3 separate regions of the Homo sapiens genome follow, and regions 2 and 3 are each linked to region 1. The links come from fine-mapping of genetic effects on gene expression. A gene starts in region 1. Each other region holds a variant in brackets. All regions are shown on one strand. Distances are from middle to middle.

What was found. PIP is the estimated chance that this variant, and not a neighbour inherited with it, causes the effect.
Region 2: its variant is the best candidate, but not a certain one, in a credible set for the expression of SLC15A4 in whole blood (TOPMed, PIP 0.52).
Region 3: its variant is the best candidate, but not a certain one, in a credible set for the expression of SLC15A4 in liver (GTEx, PIP 0.51).

Annotation. Positions count from the first base shown.
Region 1 is chr12:128,820,989-128,827,082 of GRCh38, forward strand. It overlaps SLC15A4 (solute carrier family 15 member 4), which reads right to left and starts at 2,970. Exons shown (of 8, transcript NM_145648.4): 1 at 2,410-2,970. The coding sequence starts at 2,955. It overlaps LOC124903083 (a long non-coding RNA gene), which reads left to right and starts at 2,956. Exons shown (of 2, transcript XR_007063602.1): 1 at 2,956-4,902. RefSeq lists enhancers at 981-1,100, 1,161-1,240, 2,721-2,880.
Region 2 is chr12:128,850,515-128,856,115 of GRCh38, forward strand. It overlaps GLT1D1 (glycosyltransferase 1 domain containing 1), which reads left to right and starts at 2,964. Exons shown (of 12, transcript NM_001366886.1): 1 at 2,964-3,135. The coding sequence starts at 3,068. LOC100128276 (a long non-coding RNA gene) reads right to left here and starts at 2,581. Exons shown (of 3, transcript NR_148996.1): 1 at 2,562-2,581; 2 at 1,679-1,838. RefSeq lists silencers at 2,943-3,042, 3,233-3,432 and an enhancer at 3,294-3,945. The variant G/C (reference allele first, on the strand shown) is at 2,884.
Region 3 is chr12:128,902,168-128,908,261 of GRCh38, forward strand. The region is part of intron 4 of GLT1D1 (glycosyltransferase 1 domain containing 1); the gene reads left to right. Among named protein-coding and RNA genes, the nearest start is that of GLT1D1, 52 kb to the left of the region's middle. The variant T/C (reference allele first, on the strand shown) is at 2,746.

The sequences.
Region 1 (6,094 bases):
GAGGTCGTTTACAAGCCTGGCACCTCCCTCCCCTCTCTCACTTCCTCTAGTGCATGTGATCTCTACACAGCTGGCTCCCATTCACAAGGCCCTCAGCAGTGCAGATGCTGGCGCCCTGCTTCTTGTACAGCCTGCAGAACCCTAAACCAAAGAAACATCTTTCCATTATAGATGACTGAGCCTCAGGTATTCCTACATAGGAACACAAACAGGGAGACAACCTGCCAGTACTTCCTGCCCATTCTACTTCCATAGCTGAACTCCATCCATCCACTTCACCCACCTCCACTGCCTCCACTCTAGTTAGGAGAGACTCCCACCTCATGTCCCTAATGTCACCACTTCCTACACAACCCATTCTCTACAAGCATCCGCACACTTCTGTGAAGGGGCAGGCAGTTCACATTTTGAGTTCTATGAGACATCTCGTCTCCATCACAGTTACTCAATTCTGCCACTGCTTAGTGAAAGCAGCCCCAGTGTAGTGGCTGTGTTGCAGAAACAGGTGGGGCTATGTTCCAATAACGCTTTATTTATGGAGATTGAAATTTGATTTTCATAAAATTTTCACTGGTCACAAATGATCCCGTTTCCGACCACTTAAAAATGTAAGAACTAGCTGGGCGCCGTGGCTCATGCCTGTAACCCCAGCACTTTGGGAGGCCGAGGCAGGCAGATCACAAGGTCAAGAGATCAAGACCATCCTGGCCAACACGGTGAAACCCCGTCTCTACTAGAAATACAAAAGTTAGCTGGGCACAGTGGCGTGCACGTGTAGTCTCAACTACTCAGGAGGCCGAGGCAGGAGAATCGCTTGAACTCAGGAGGTGAAGGTTGCAGTGAGCTGAGATCGCGCCACTGCACTCCAACCTGGCAACAGAGCGAGACTCCGCCTCAAAAAAAAAAAAAAAAAAGAAAGAAAGAAAATATTAAGAACCATTCTTAGCTTGTGAATCCTCAGAAAATAAGAAGCAGACCTGACCTGCTACCCCAGCTGTAGTGCCTGCTCTGCACAAATCACTCCCTGCTGGAACCCAGTAAAGCTCTCGACTGTATCCCCAACGCTTTAACACTCCTCACATGATCCGGCCCCAGCCTTCCACCTCACTTCCCACTTTTTTTTATATTTTCTGAAACGATCTGACTTTGCTATTGCTCTTAAAGGCGGCCTATTCTGCATATAATACTTGGTGGCCACGTCCTTGCCCCTCCTGAAGAGCTGCAGTGGTTCCTCCCTCACTTCTTGGCAGTTACAGTTGCAGGGGAGCAGCTTGATGCTAACTTGATTCAAACTCATTTTCATCTGAGCTTTCCGACCCAACCTAGCCCGTAACTCCTTTAAAGCCACGAAGACGCAATATGAGTGTTTTCCCACTTCTTTGTAAAGGAAGCTAAGGCAACAACGGGGGCTTCCCCTTCCCTCAGCTTCCTGGCCCAGGGCCCTGCACCTGCGAATCCCCATGTCTGGAAAGCTCCTCAAACAACTGCTCTTTCCTAGCCTTCTGGTCTGAACTTACAGGGCCTGAACATAGAAGGGTCCCGTTCATTTATTTTTTATTTATTTATTTATTTTTATTTGGAGACAGAGTCTCGCTCTGTCGCTCAGGCTGGAGGAGTGGAGTGGCGCGATCTCGGCTCATCGCACCTCTGCCTCCCGGGTGCAAGCGATTCTCCTGCCTCAGCCTCCCGACTAGCTGAGAGAACAGGTGCCCGCCACCACGCTCGGCTAATTTTTGTATTTTTAGCCAGGCTGGTCAGGCTGGTCTCGAACTCCTGACCTTAGGTGATCCACCCACCTCGGCCTCCCAAAGTGTTGGGATTACAGGCGTGAGCCACTGCGCTCAGCGTATTTTTTAAATTTTATTTATTTATTTTTTTGAGGTGGGGTCTCACTCTGTTACCCAAGCTAGAGTGCACTGGTGTGACCCTAGCTCACTGCAGCCTCCGAAACTCGTAGGCTCAAGGAATCCTCCTTTCTCTGCTAGGACTACAGGTGTGCGCCTCCACGGAGGGCAAATTTTTAAATTTTGGTAGAGATGAGGTCTCACTGTGTTGCCCAACCTGGTCTCAAAGTCCTGGGCTCAAGAGATCCTCCCGCCTCGGCCTCCCAAAGTGCTGGAATTACAGGCGTGAGCCACCGCGCCCGGCCTCTCTTTTCTTTAAAGCCACTGTGGCCATCACTGTGTGTGTAGACCTCACCCCGCCCCAGGCAAACCCCTTCCAGCACCCATCACACCGGTACCTCCAGTCTTGGCCCACCTGCTGGCGGGATTCCTCGGCACTAGACAGAAGCCCCCCGGGGCAAGGGGCTCCCTCCGCGGTCAGAGGCAGGGACTGGGGCAGGGGAAGAGGCTGGGGCTGGGCAGGGGCTGGACAGGGACAGGGACAGCGCGCGGGGGCGCGGCTCACCTGGTCGGCGCCGAAGGGCGTGATGTTGGCCTTGACGGTGGCCACGCCCAGGCCCACCAGCACCAGCCCCGCGAAGGTGGCCGGTGAGCAGCAGCGGGCGGCGGCGTCGGGACCAGGCGCCGTGCAGTTGAGCAGGCGCGCGGAACCGCAGAGCGCGGCTCGCGTGGCGGGCGCGGCCAGCAGCGGGAAGGCCAGCATGCCCAGCAGGTAGAGCGCCAGGCTCAGCAGGATGGCGCGCGCCCGGCCCAGCCGCGCGTCGGCCAGCCAGCCTCCGAACGGCGAGCCCAGGTAGGTGAGGCCCATGAAGAGCAGCAGCGCCTCGCTGGCCTGCGCGCCCTCCCAGCAGAACGGCGCCCCGTTCAGGAATAGCACCAGGTTGGACGTGATGCCGTAGAAAGCGGCGCGCTCCAGCAGCTCCGTCAGCAGCACGGCCCCGCACGCCGCGCGCCGGCCCGCGAACGCCCCAGCCGCCGCCGCGGCCGCCGCCGCCCGCCGCGCGCCCAGCAGCGGCGCCCGCTCGCCCGCACCGCCCCCAGAGCCCTCCATGCGACGCCGCCAGCTGCCTCGCCCCGCCGCCGGGTCACCTGTCCCAGAACCCAGGGCCGCCGCCCTTCTCGCGAGACTGCCGGGCCTGAGATGTCCCTATTGGGCGGGCTCGCCGCTGCTCAACGCCCCACTCGCCGGAACTTCCGGCCCCGCCCCGGGCACTAGGCGAGGAGGTGGCCGGTATTCTGGATCACTGCGTGTCTTGGGGAGCTTGGGATTCCGCAGCTTGGCGGCCGAGAGCCTTTGTTTGCCTTTTTGAGACAGGGTTTCCCTCTCTCGCCCAGGCTGGAGCGCAGTCATGCGGTTACGCCTCACTGCAGCCTCAGCTTCCCAGGATCAAGCGGCCCTCCCACCTCAGCCTCCCGGGTAGCTGGGACCGCAGGCGCTCGCCGCTGCCTGTGGCTAATTTTTAAACAGTTTTTTGAAATGGGGTCTCGCTTTGTTGCTCAGGTTGGTCTCGAACTCCTGGCATCAAGCGTTCCTCACGTCTCAGCCTCCCATAGTGTTGGAATTACGTGCATGAGCCACTGCAGGCAGTCGGACTAAGGGAGTTTAAACAAAGAAGCCGGAGCCTGGCCCTCTTCGGGCTTCGGTGGGGCCCAGTAGGCAGCCAAAACTCACACTGAGACGGCGGCTGCTCTCCAGGCGGGTTTGCTCAGGCTGCCCCCGTGCTCCCTGCCCTGGGCTTCAGTCCTGGAGAGGACCCGGTTTCTCAACCCGTGCATCGTTGGCACTTTGAGCGACGGGACTGTCCTGTGCGTTGCACGATGTTCAGCAGCAGCTTTGGCCTCTGCTATCCACTAGGGGCCAGTTCCACCCCCTAGCACCTCAGGTTAACAACCGAAAATGTCTTCTAGACTTTGCCGAAGGACTCCTGGGGGCAAATACGCCCCCATTGAGACTCACTGGCTTAGAACAAGGCAAGCTCCAGCCTGTTTCAGGCTTTCCCAGAGACTGCCCCTACACCATCTATGGTTGCATGGCTGGCTTCTCATCCTTCAACCTTCCACCGAAGTGTTGACTTCAGAGAAACATTTTTTTCACTAGCCTGTCCAAGGCCCGAGTATCCCATTCCATCATGTTACTCTTTTCTCCTTATTACCTGTTACATTTTTTAATTTATTCGTTTATCTCCCCAACCTGCATGTGTTAACAGGTGTAAGCTTCCTGATGGCAGGATTCTCTTGTGTTTTGTTCCTCACTGTGCCCCCTGCCTCTGGGACAGCGCCTGGCACATAGTGGAGTGAAAGAGTGCCGCCCAAAAATGGCCCTCAGCATGGCTTCAGAAATTGAGACCCCGGCCTGGGATGGTGGCTCACGTCTACAATCCCAGCACTTTGGGAGGCCGAGGCGGACGGATCACGAGGTCAAGAGATCGATACCATCCTGGCCAACATGGTGAAACCCCGTCTCTACTAAAAATACAAAAATTAGCTGGGCGTGGTGGCAGGCGCCTGTAGTCCCAGCTACTCAGGAGGCTGAGGCAGGAGAATCGCTTGAACCAGGGAGGCAGAGGTTGCAGTGAGCCGAGATTGTGCCACTGCATTCCGGCCTGGTGACAGAGTGAGACTTCGTCTCAAAAAAAAAAAAAAAGACAAAAAAAAAAGAAATTGAGACCCCGGCCTGGGATGATGGCTCACGCCTATAATCTCAGCACTTTGGGAGGCTGAGGCAAGAGGATTGCTTGAGCCCGGGAGGTAGAGGCTGCATTCAGCAGTGAGGGCATCACTGCACTCCAGCCTGGGTGACATAGTGAGACCCTGTCTCAAAAAAAAAAAAAAAAAAAGGCAAGAAAGAAAGGAATCGTGATCCACAGCTGCTGCAATGATTCAATTAGTGTAAGACCACCTCCTCTTCCTTCATCATTCCCTCCAGCTAAGATGAGGGTGGAGCCAGTAGCTGGGAAGTTGGCTTGCCAGTAGGTCATCTGGAGAAGTAATCCTGCCAGTAAGTCTTGAAGTTGCATGCATTCTCTTTTTAAAAAACTTTTTTAAATGTCCGACAGATAGACTGATGGTCAGCACAGTGCTGCCACACAGCAGGCAATATATATTTAATCAATGTCTAAGGAGAGAATAATTGAATGCCCGAATTGGACCTTTGCCACCTGTCTGTTGATGCTTGTCATTTCCAGCTGTCAGCTCAAATATCACTTTCCTAACCCTGCCACACTAGGTTAGCTCCCCGTTTTTATGGCCTTGGAACTCCCTATACTTTTTTCCCACAGCACCGGTTATAATTTATACTTATTTTGTGCAACTATTGAATGCCTGTCTTCAAAGCTGGGATGGCCGGGATCTTTGTTTTAACCACGATTGTAGTTCTAGAGGCTGGCACAGCACTTGCCAATGATAAATAGGTATTAGATTGAACTGGATGAGTGAATGACTGACCATTTGTTGAATGTAAATGATGCAAGTCACCTTATGTTCTCATATATGTGTGTGTATACACATATGTATATCTGTGTGTATATATGTATATATGTGTGTATATAAGTGTGTGTATATGTGTGCATGTATACATGTGTATATATATGTGTCTATACATGTTCAAGGGCATATATTAGTATTTTAACTTATTATTGGATACTAATATATGTCCTTGAACATGTACATATAGACACACACACACACATATGTGCCATTTTTTTTTTTTCTTTTTGAGATGGAGTTTCGCTCTTGTAACCCAGGCTGGAGTGCAGTGGCACAGTGGCTCATGCCTGTAATCTCAGCACTTTGGGAGGCCAAGGCAGGCAGATCACTTGAAGTCAGGAGTTAAAGACCAGCCGGGCCAACATGGTGAAACCCCATCTCTACTAAAATTACAAAAATTAGCCAGGCGGTAGTGTTGCGCACCTGTAATCCCAGCTACTCAAGAGGCTCAGGCAGGAGAATCGCTTGAGCCTGGGAGGTGGAGTTGCAGTGAGCCGAGATCACGCCACTGCACTCCAGCCTGGGTGATAGAGCGAAACTGTCTCAAAATAAAAAATAAAAAAGAAAGCAATAGAACTCAGACTTCAATGAAAGGCTTATATCTAATTATGAGTCCAGTGCTGCTTCCACTTTGCAGTTGGTAGAGGAGACAGAATCTTTGAGTATTTTTTCTAAGACTGATAGGTTTGACGCTCAGGCAAAGT
Region 2 (5,601 bases), 29 kb after region 1:
ACTTTTGCCTTTCCTTCCTTCCTGCTGCCTGGAATGTTGATGTGATGGGTGGAGCTGTAGCAGTCCTACTCCTTATCAATTCCTTGATAAGGTGATCTTGAGACTAGAAGCTAAACACTAGCATGATGGAGTAGACAGAGGAAAGTCTGGGTTCCTGGTGATGGTACAGCCACTATATTAGGCTTGGGCCACCTTCTTCTGAACTTAATTTACGTAAAAATAAACTTCAAATTTTTTCTAAACACAAGAATACAGATCGAGGTTATCAAGGAATTGAAGTGAGCCTTCAAGCACTGTGTGAAATGGCACATTCAGATTTCATCTTAAGCAGGCAGCTGCTTCCCAGCTTCAGTCAGCCACAGGATGGTGGCTTCATTTAATCAGATCTCTCATTTTTTAACAGATATCAGAAATTCCAACTTCTATATGAAAGCTCCCAATTAAAAAATGGTGGCTTGGCCAGGTATAGTGGCTCACGCCTGTAATTCCAGTACTCTGGGAGGCTGAGGTGAGTTGACTGCTTGAGCCCAGGAGCTCAAGACCAGCCTGGACAACATAGTGAGACCCCACTTCTACAAAAAATACAAAAAATTAGCCCAGCATGGTGGTGCACATCTATGGTTCCAGCTACTTTTTTGGAAGGCTGAGATGGGAGGATCACTTGAGCCCAGGAGGTGGAAGCTGGAGTGATCCATAATCACACCACGGCACCCCCAGCCTGGATGACAGAGTGACACTGTCTCAAAACAAACAAAAAATAATAGCTCAGCTTTTATGAAAAACACGGTGTAGCCTAAATACATCTAAGGATGATATTGAGCCCACAAGGCTGCCAGTTCAACTCTCCTTAGGGAGGTTCCTTTCTGGGCTCATGCTGAAGTCGCCTTTGTAAAATCAGAAATGTATCTGTTCACATTTAGCTTTTAATATCCCATGGGCAAGGTGAAATAGGGGAAGATCATGGGCAAGTGCCCCCCTCTACTTCTGTATACCACACCAGACACTGCGTTTTATTGCCTCTTCTTGGTGTGTAGCAAATATATCAGGAGTCCACTCAAAACTTATTTATTTATTTAACACTGAGTCTTGCTTTACTGCCTAGGCTGGAGCGCAGTGGCATGATCGCGGCTCACTGCAACCTCCGCCTCCTGGGTTCAAATGATTCTCATGCCTCAGCCTCCCAAGTACCTAGGACTACAGGCTTGTACCACCATGCCCATCTATTTTTCTATTTTTGGTAGAGACGGGGTTTTGCCATGTTGGCCAGACTGGTCTTGAACTCCTGGCCTCAAGTGATCCACCCACCTCGGCCTCCCAAAGTGCTGGAATTATAGGAGTCAGCCGCCGTGCCCGGGGTCAAAACTCTTTTTCTAAAATGTCGTTAGAAGGGGGTTGTGACAGCTCTGTGCAACTTGTCCCCTTTCCTGTTTGCTTATGTAATTCTGTTGGAAAGTATTAAGTTGTTTAGCAGAATGATAATATTTTCAGATCGCTTTTGTCCTTTAAAAAGGATGTGGCCTGCCTGCCTGGTGCCTGGGAAGCTGAAATACCAGGAAGAAGAGCAAAATCCTGGGTGTTTTTTTGAGAGTGAGAGGAGGACAGGATTTTGATTGTTCTACAATGATATACAACTCTTCCCTACTCCATGCCACACTGAGAGGCAGAGTGGTGGACGTACCTGGGAGAAGCCTGCGGAGCCGAATGTGCCCTCCAGGATGGACTTTTATATCTTGATAAGCCTGGGGGTCACCATGCTGCGTAGGGAGGCCGGAGACCTGCCACTGACGGTGGTTATCCCATGTCATGGCTTTCTTCATTCCCACTTTACCTTTTTGAGGCTGGAAGGTATTTAGGGGATGACAGAAAATCAAGTTTGAAGGTCAATGGAAATATTGGGCACCCACTAGAATGTCCCACATCTGTAAATACATGTGCATCTTTGTAAACACTTAACAGCTGTTTTGGGGAGTGCTTGTTTAAATCCACAGATGGCATTTTGCCAGAGGCCTCCTTCAGTTCCCTATTTCTCTCACTCAAGGTATCCTAGTTTGGAGATCCAGACCAGGTGCAGCCCATGTACCCTGATGAACCCCAGGTTCCCCTCTCCAACATCTTTCTCACCCGACAGGTGCGGCCCTGAAATGGGTTTCTACTGTCTCCTCACACAGTCCCCATGTTCCCCTCCTCGGGTTAGTTTTAGGGTAGTCTAGCCTGGGAAGGAATTTGGGACTGATCATGCCACGTTCCCTGGAATGGGACTAGAAAGGAATCCTGGGCTTCGTGCGGACCAAGGCCCCACTCAGGTTGTCATGGAAAATGAGGCTGAGAGCCCCTCTCTGCAGCACCCTGTGGGACGGAACCCGAGGTCTCTGCTGGTCCCGGTGGGCACAGACCTGCAGCCAACCCGGTGTTCCGTGAAGCCCTGATTTCCCAATGAAGCCCATGGAAGCCATCACTGGTTTCCATGGGAGCGGACCATGGCCACCCCTGCTCCTGTTCCCTGTGGGAAAGGACCAAGGCCGCCCCTGGTCCTGGTCACTGTGGGAAGGGACTGTGGTCACCGCTGGTCCTGGTCCCCTTGGGAGGGACTGTGGTCACCGCTGGTCCTGGTCCCCGTGAGAATGGTCTGTGGTCACCGCTGCCTGTTCCCTGTGGAAGGGAACGTGGTCACTGCTGGTCCTAGTCCTCTTGGGAGGGACTGTGGTCACCGCTGGTCCTGGTCCCCGTGTGAGGGACTGTGGTCACCGATGGTCCTGGTCCCCGTGGAAGGGACTGTGGTCACCGCTGGTCCTGGTCCAGGTGGAAACAGACCGCGGCTACCCTGGTGATGGACCCCACGGGGCACACCCGCGCCACCCCGCACCCAGGGCTCGCGCCGCCCGA[G/C]GCCCCCGGTTCCTGTCCCCCTCCCCGCCTGGCGCCGGAACCTGCGAGCTGGGGCGCGGCCTCGGGGAGGGGCGGGCGGGACAGACCCAGCCGCCCCGGCTCCCCCGCCGTCCGCGTCTGCGCCGGCCCCGGGGCCTGGTCGGCGGCGGCGGGGCCGGTCGATGGCCCGGGCGGCGGCGGCGGCATGCGGCTCCTGTTCCTGGCGGTGCTGCGGCCACACACCGGCAACGCGGTCACGGCCCAGCGCGTTCGGTAGGTGCAGGGCGCCGGGGCCTACGAAGCCTGGGCCGGGGGCCGGGGGGCGGGGACGCGGGACCCGGGGACGCGGGGCGCTCAGCCAGGCCCCCTCCAGCCGCGCCGGGGCCGTCCCGAGCCGCGCGCACAAACGGATGGGCCGGTGCCGCCTGCCGGGCGCGCGGGGGTCGGTGCCTTCTGCGTGGCGCGCGTGTCCCCGGGTCTCCGTGCGGCCGGCGCATTGGCCTCGCGCTCTCCGGAGGGGACTGAGCAGGTGAACAGGCCCGGAGCCTGTCGTGGAGGGGCCCGGGAAGGCCTCGCTGCAGAAGCAGGATGGGAGCAGGATCCGCAGGGATGCGCAGCGGGGTCCGCGGAGCTCCCGGCGGGGGCGCGTTTCCAGGCCGGGGACCGCGGTGCCAGCCCTGCCCTCGCGGATCGGGTCTCGGCTGTGTGCCGGCGTCCGGGGTCCTGTCCCCGAAGTCCCTTTCCCACCTCCCCTCTGCCCTGTCTATTCTCGTCTTCCTGGCTGGTTAGCTCCTTCACACTCATCTTTTTCTGCCTTTGTCTTATTTGTTTACTTGTTGGTCTGTGTTCTGGTCGCTGGAACGCAAGCCCGGCGGGGGCCCGGGGAGGGGCCGCCGCGTTAATCCCGCCGCCTCCCACCCGCACAGCGGGCGCTCGGCCTGTATTAGCCGGATAAACATATTCCTTGAGGCGAAGCCTGGGAAGTGCCAGGATTAGAGCCTGCAGCTTAACAGAAGCCGTGTGTGTGTGTGTGTGTGTGTGTGTGTGTGTGTGTGTGTGTGTAAAAGCGGACTTGCTTCATGAAATTTCCCGATTTACTTCCCTTCTGTGGGCCTGTTTCCCCATCAATTTATTTTTTTGAAATGGAGTCTCGCTGTGTCACCCAGGCTGGAGTGCAGTGGCGCAATCTGGGCTCACTGCAACCTCCGCCTCCTGGATTCAAGCATTCTCCTGCCTCAGCCTCCCAAGTAGTTGGGATTACAGGTGTGCACCACCACGCCCGGCTGATTTTTGTATTTTTAATAGAGACAGGGTTTCACCATGTTGGCCAGGTTGGTCTCGAACTCCTGCCCTCAGGTGATCCGCCTGCCTCGGCCTCCCACAGTGCTGGGTTTACAGGTATGAGCCACTGTGCCCGGCCTCCTCATCATTAAAATGAGCAATTGAGACTCCACCAACACTTTCATGTCCCTTTCAGCTAATTTCTCCTAAAGATCATAAGCAGAAATGACCAAGAGAGGATCCATCAGTTTTCTGAAATTTGCTGGAAAATTTACACTCAGGTTTCATGGTGCAGGTTTCTATTAAATAGGTCAGTGATGCTCTGCTTGGGTTTAGCAGTGAGGAGCCCTTTGTGTTCCTGGCTCTGTTGGATGAACCAGCATCCCAGTATGGGAGAGGAATGAAGGAGGTGATTTCACATAGGGATTAGTGCTATTAAGAAAGCAAAACTAGGAGGCTGAGGCAGGAGAATCGCTTGAACCTGGGAGGCAGCTGTTGCAGTGAGCCAATTGATCTGGGATCACGCCACTGCACTCTAGCCTGGGTGACAGAGCCAGACTCCATCTAAAAAAAAAAAAAAAAAAAACAACAACAACAACAAAAAAAACAAAAAACCTAGGGCAGGCTTTCATGGCGGCTCAAGCCTGTAATCCCAGCACTTTGGGAGGCTGAGATGGGAGGATTGCTTGAGCCCAGGAGTTAAAGACCAGCATGGGCAACATGGTGAAACCCTCATCTCTACAAAAAAAAATTTAAAAATTAGCTGATGTGGTGTGTGCATGCCTGTGGTCCTAGCTACTCAGGAGGCTGAGGCAGGAGGATCAGTTGAGCCCAGGAGGTTGAGGCTGCAGCGAAGTGACATTGCACCACTGAACTCCAGCCTGGGTGGCAGATCAAAACTCTAAAAAATAAAACAAAACTGTTAACGGAAAGAGGTCCTGATCCAGAACCCGATAGAGGGTTCTTGGATCTTGCACAAGCAAGAATTCAGGGCGAGTCCTTAAAGTGAAAGCAAGTTTATTAAGAAAGTAAAAAAATAAAAGACTGGCTACTCCATAGACAGAGCAGCCCCAAGGGCTGCTGGTTGCCTTTTTTTTTTTTTTTTTTTTTTTTGAGACAAAGCTTCATTCTTTCGCCCAGGCTGGAGTGCAATGGCGGGGTCTCAGCTCACTGCAACCTCTGCCCCCCGGTTCCAGCGATTCTCCTGCCTTACCTTCCGGAGTAGCTGGGATTACAGGCGCCTGCCACCACACCCAGCTGATTTTTGTATTTTTAGTAGAGACAGGGTTTCACCATGTTGGCCAGGCTGGTCTCGAACTCCTGACCTCACGTGATCCTTTGGTCTTGGCCTCCCAAAGTGCTAGGATTACAGGCATGAGCAACTTCGCCTGGCCTTGGTTGTCCATTTTTATGGTTATTTCTTGATGATATGCTAAACAAGGAGTGGATTATTCACAC
Region 3 (6,094 bases), 81 kb after region 1:
AATGGACTTTAATATAACTGAGTATGAAAAGTTCGGCCAGGTGCAGTGGCTCATGCCTGTAATCCCAGCACTTTGGGAGGCCGAGGTGGGCGGATCACCTGAGGTCAGGAGTTCGAGACCAGCCTGACCAACATGGAGAAACCCCGACTCTACTAAAAATACAAAATTAGCCAGGCATGGTGGTGCGTGCCTGTAATCCCAGCTACTTTCGGGAGGCTGAGGCAGGAGAATCGCTTGAACCCAGAAGGTGGAGGTTGCAGTGAGCCGAGATTGTACCATTGCACTCCAGCCAGGGCAAGAAGAGCAAAAATTCTGTCTCAAAAAAAAAAAAAAGAAAGAAAAAAAGAAAAGTTCCCTGATGCAGCTAAACTTTAAGAAATTGCCACTTGCTGAGTTTGGGTGCAGTGTCCAAGAACAATGCCTACAGTGATCGGAAAGGCCATTAAAATACTCTTTCTTTTCCTACTACCTGTCTGCAAGAGGCAGGATTTTCTTTATAGACCTCAACCAAAACAACATATTGCAACAAATTAAATGAAACAGCAAACGTGGGAACCCAACTGTGTTGGTTAAGACAGACATTAAAGAAATAATTGCCAGGCGCAGTGGCTCAACCTGTAATCCCAGCACTTTGGGAGGCTGAGGCGGGCAGATCACCTGAGGTCAAGAGTTCAAGACCAGCCTGGCCAACATGACGAAACCCTGTCTCTACTGAAAATGCAAAAAATTAGCCGGGCATGGTGGTGTGCACCTGTAGTCCCAGCTACTCAGGAGGCTGAGGCAAGAGAATTGCTTGAACCCAGGAGGCCGAGGTTGAAGTGAACAGAGATGGTGCCACTGCAAGACTCCGTCTCAAAAAAAAAAAAAAAGAAAGAAATATTTTACCTGTGGAAGCATGCTCCTTTTCCATGAATTCATTGCCCTTTTCTCTAACTTGTCAGCCTTCAATATCATCCTCCACCATAAATCCTTCCTTGACCCTCCAGAATTGGCATAGATGAGTTCCCTTCCTCTGTCAGTTACCTTTTGCTGCTTAACAAACCAGTTGCCTTAAACACGCAGGGTGGCCTCACTTCCATGCCTGGACCTTAGCTGGGATGGTGGGGACCCCTGAGGCCTGTCTCCATGGGGTCTGTCATCCTGTTTTAGGCTCGGCAGGAAGAGAGAACGGGCCTCAACTCACAAGCACATTCCAGGCCTCTGCCTGTGATAAGCTTGCCTCCTTCCCATTGACCAAAGCAACTCAGCGGGTGGAGATACGGTCCCCACCTCATAATGAGAGGATCTTTAATGCTGCCTTACAAGGGCACGGATGCAGGGAGGGGGAGAATTGATGGCCTCTGTAACCATCTGCCACACTTCATGCTTGTCTCTAATGAGTATAACATGTTTTACTTTCTTCCCCGTGCTTCTCAAGTGGTGAGCTTCTTGAGAAAGGGACATGAGGTAGTCACTCGTGCATCCCTGGAGAATAGTATATACTGTCTCAGGCCCGGTGAATATCCTTTAAATTGATTGATTAGGAACGACTCCTCCTTTAGAACCTTTTGGTTTTTTTAAATATTTTTATTTTTATTTTTTGAGATGGAATCTTGCTCTGTCACCCAAGGTGAAGTACAGTGGCGCAATCTCAGCTCACTGCAACCTCTGCCTCCCAAGTTCAAGCTATTCTCCTGCCTCAGCCTCCTGAGTAGCTGGGATTACAGGCTCCCGCCATCATGCCCAGCTAATTTTTGTATTTTTGGTAGAGACGGGGTTTCACCATGTTGGCCAGGCTGGTCTCGAACTCCTGACCATGTGATCCGCCCGCCTTGGCCTCCCAAAGTGCTGGGATACAGGCATGAGCCACTGTGCCCGGCCAGAACTTTTAATTAAAGAAATTTTCAGGCATGTGTAGAAGTAGCAAGAATAGTAGAGTGAGCCCTTTATGTGCCCATGACCCAGTTTATTGTTCCTCAATTCTTATTTACTCTACTTCCTCCTGAATACACACACACACCTACACTCACACACACACATACAATGTTTTCGAGAATAATTTCAAAAATTACCAATATCATGCCATTTCACCTATAATTATGTGCCATTTTACCTGCAAATGTACTTTGATAAAGACTTTTTTTAAAAAACATAAACACAGTGGTACAGGTAACTTTTGTATTGGCAGACCACAGTCAGTAAGGAAGAAATAAAGAGGGGTTTAAGAGCGTTCATACAACCTAACATTTTTATCAATACAGTTTGGAAGAAATCAAGGAATAGAATTTGGAGGGGGAAAAAGAGAGGAACTGAATCATTTGGTTCTGGATGTATTGACTTAGTGACAAATATTGGACTCGGGTAAATATCCAGAATAGAGCTGAGAATGTAGGACTGTCCTCAGAGGAGGGCACAGTTGGGGACACAGCCATGTGAGTCACTGGTGTCCAGGTGATGGTTAAAGCATGAAAACAGTCTTTTTTTTTTTTTTTTTTTTTTTTTTTTGAGACAGAGTCTTTCTCTGTTGCCCATGCTGGAGTGCAGTAGTGCGATCTCGGCTCACCGCAACCTGCGGCTCCCGGATTCAAGCGATTCTCCTGCCTCAGCTTCCCAAGTAGCTGGGATTACAGATGCCCACCACCACACCCAACTAATTTCTGTATTTTGAATAGAGATGGGGTTTCACCATGTTGGCCAGGCTGGTCTTGAACTCCCAACCTCAGGCGATCCACCTGCCTCGGCCTCCCAAAGTGCTGGGATTACAGG[T/C]GACTGCCACTATGCCTGGCTAATTTTTGTATTTTTAATAGAGACTGGGTTTCACCATGTTGGCCAGGCTGGTCTCGAACTCCTGACCTCAAGTGATCTGCCCACCTCATCCTCCCAAAAGGCTGGGATTACAGGCATGAGCCACCGCGCCTGGCCCATTTCCCACCCTAAACACTCAGCTGTCAGGTATTACACCACTTACGCCGTTTCCCAGAAGCTAAGGGTGCAGGTCATGCCTCTGTTTGGTCAAGGCCGAATTTCCTAGTACACACCCACTATATGTCATCAATATGAAAGTTACTAGTGACATCATATTTTACCTTTTTGTGTGTGAAGTCTTTGAAATCCTGTGTGTATTTTACACTCACAGCACATCTTAATTCAAACAGGGCCTTAGACGTGCCCTGGATCAGCCACGTGGCCACGTGTGGCGAGGGCTGTTGTGTGCTCAGGGCAGCTCTGTTTCAGGATTTCTGAAACTTACTCACACGATATCTGATCCTGGAGGACACATGAACGGACATGTGCCCAGTGAGGGTTAGTTTGTAACCGGTGAGTGAACTTCAGCCCCCAGGGCTGCTCTTGTGGAAATGTTGTCTTGGGAGCTGGGTTTATGATCGCCTACCTATCTCTGGCTGACCTTCACAAGTTAGTTTGATTGGATTTCAGTAAAGACGGTTTTATCTCTTTTAATTTGAAATGCCTTTGTTTATGCTCAAGTCATTATTTTTTAGTGTTGTTTATATCAGCCTTAATTTGACATTGTACCTACTTTGTAAAATATACAATCCTAGTGGGCTCCTCACCAGGTCAGCATGCTAGGCTGTTAATGCCTAGCACGCGTGATCAACGTAGGTTATGTTTTGGGATGGCATTACTATGTTGGTTTGTGATATTATAATATATCTTTTAAGTGTTTTTTTTTTTTCTTTATTAAAGGAGTCTCACTCTGTTGCCCAGGCTGGATGGAGTGCAGTGGCGTGATCGTGGCTCACTGCAGCCTCAAACTCGTGGGCTCAGACGATCCTCTCCCCCTCAGCCTCCTGGGTAGCTGGGACTACAGGCCCATGCCACCACACCTGGCTGAAATTTTGACTTTTTTTTTTTTGTGGAGATAAGGTCTCACTGCGTTGCCCAGGCTACTCTTGAACTCCTGGCCTCAAGTAGTTCTCCTGCATCAACCTCCTAAAATGCTAGAATTACAGGCGTGAGCGTCTGTGCTGGCCAGTTTCTGATATTATAATATTGATTTGACATTTTCAAGAATTTGATTCATTTCACATTTCTGATCCTGAAATATATGTTGTGGGAAGTTTGAAAATATTTTATGTAGGATTTTGATTTCTTGCTACAATATGTAATAGATATTCAGGATGCAAACTTGAGTACTTCTAGTTCTAGTCCACGTTTAGAGCGCTTTGTCTAAATTCATCAGAATTTCACCAGAAAATGTAAAAATTTCACCAAGAAGAAAAAAACACCCACGAACAAATTAAATGTGTATCTTAATGGACGCTTCTACCAGGAGAAGCAATGGTTATGGTTTAATATGTCTCCATTGGGCTCAAAACCCCTCATGCCTGTTTTCACACTCTTTTCCTAATAAGCATTCTTCTAAGAGGACATTATCTAAACTCAAATATTTATTTATGAGCTATATTTAAAAAATCCTGTTTGAGTAAATATTGCTTGAAGCAGTTATCAAATTCAAACAAAAAAAAGCACAGTGTCATTCATAATGGCCCATCAATATGCTTTGCAAAGGCTAAGTTTTCAGGTGTTATCTTTAGAGTGAGGTTTTTCTTTTTTTTTTTTTCTTTTTTTTTTCTGGAAACTTTGAGTCACCCCCTTCTGGGGCCTAATTTATCTACTTTGCCTTGGCACTTGTGAAAGAAAAGTAACTTCTTCAAGTTGCTGTGTTAGGCAAAACCTAAAGTGTAATTTTACTTTGTGTACATTTACTCATCAAAATTCTTTTGGAAATTAAAATATAGAAAGCAAGACAGATCTCATTGGCTGTCACAAGTGCAGTTCCTGTACAGGTGAGCTCCACAAGTCAGTGCAGATGTTAGCGCTGGCCTAATCGGAATGAGCTGCGTGTCTCCTTATCCCTAAAGTCTGCAGTAGAAGCATGCTGTCTTTTGAGCTACTTATTACTTCTCCCTCTTCCTGCATGGCCCCATTGCTTTATGTCTGATTACCTCGGAAAGTCATCTTGGCAGCAGCTGAAACTACACAGACCATACCTTTTATTAGAGTTCCCACCCTCCTGGAAACATAAAAATGCATTGAACACGTGGGTTTCACCTCTAGACTACCTCTTTTCTGTGCCAACCCTCTCACCTCTGCAGGAGAAGCTCCAGGGATTGATCATGTCCCAGGAAGCTAATCTTTTTTTTTTTTTTTTTTTTGAGACCGAGTCTCGCTTTGTTGCCCAGGCTGGAGCACAGTGGCGTGATCTCGGCTCACTGCAAGCTCTGCCTCCCGGGTTCACGCCATTCTCCTGCCTCAGCCTCCCGAGTAGCTGGGACTACAGGTGCCCGCCACCACACCCAGCTAATTTTTTGTATATTTAGTAGAGACGAGGTTTCACCGTGTTAGCCAGGCTGGTCTTGATCTCCTGATCTTGTGATCCACCCGCCTCAGCCTCCCAAAGTGCTGGGATTACAGGCGTAAGCCACCGTGCCCCGCCACTAATCATTTTTAATAGCTTCTATGAAGGTGAGCCCTCATTGGAGATTTCTGGATGGAACTGCAAATGTTCTTTATGTCTGTGTGGGTTTTTTTGTTTGTTTGTTTGCCCCCATGTGAGATCCCTGGGAATTGAGAAGTTTGAAAGGAACTCAGAAGTATGAAAAACGCATCCATTCCAGAGCATAGATCTTGAGTTTACTTTTTCCATGACCCGGGGCTCAAATGTGTGGTACCATCACAAGTATTGTTTGTAATTCATTAAATTGCCCAGGCAGAGCATGGTAGGGGAATCTTCTGAATAAAATGAACAATCATTCTGAGTTGTTTACTCCATACATTTAATTGTTTAAAAAAACAAAAATCTTCTCTGGAAATTTCCTGTTGATGTTCCTGTTTCTTGAGTCGCCCCAGTAGATGGGGTGCCACACTCTCATCCTTTTATTTTGTGAAGGGTCACGGGTTGTTCTTTTAAATTTATTTAACTATTTATTTTTTAGACGAGTCTTGTTCTGTCCCCCACGCTGGAGTGCAGTGGTGCGATCTCAGCTCACTGCAGCCTCCGAAAGTGCTGGGATTACAGGTGTGAGTCCCCGCGCCTGGCCGGATTGTGTTAACTTCATCTCTATTGCTGCTCCATATTGGACCTGACAGAATC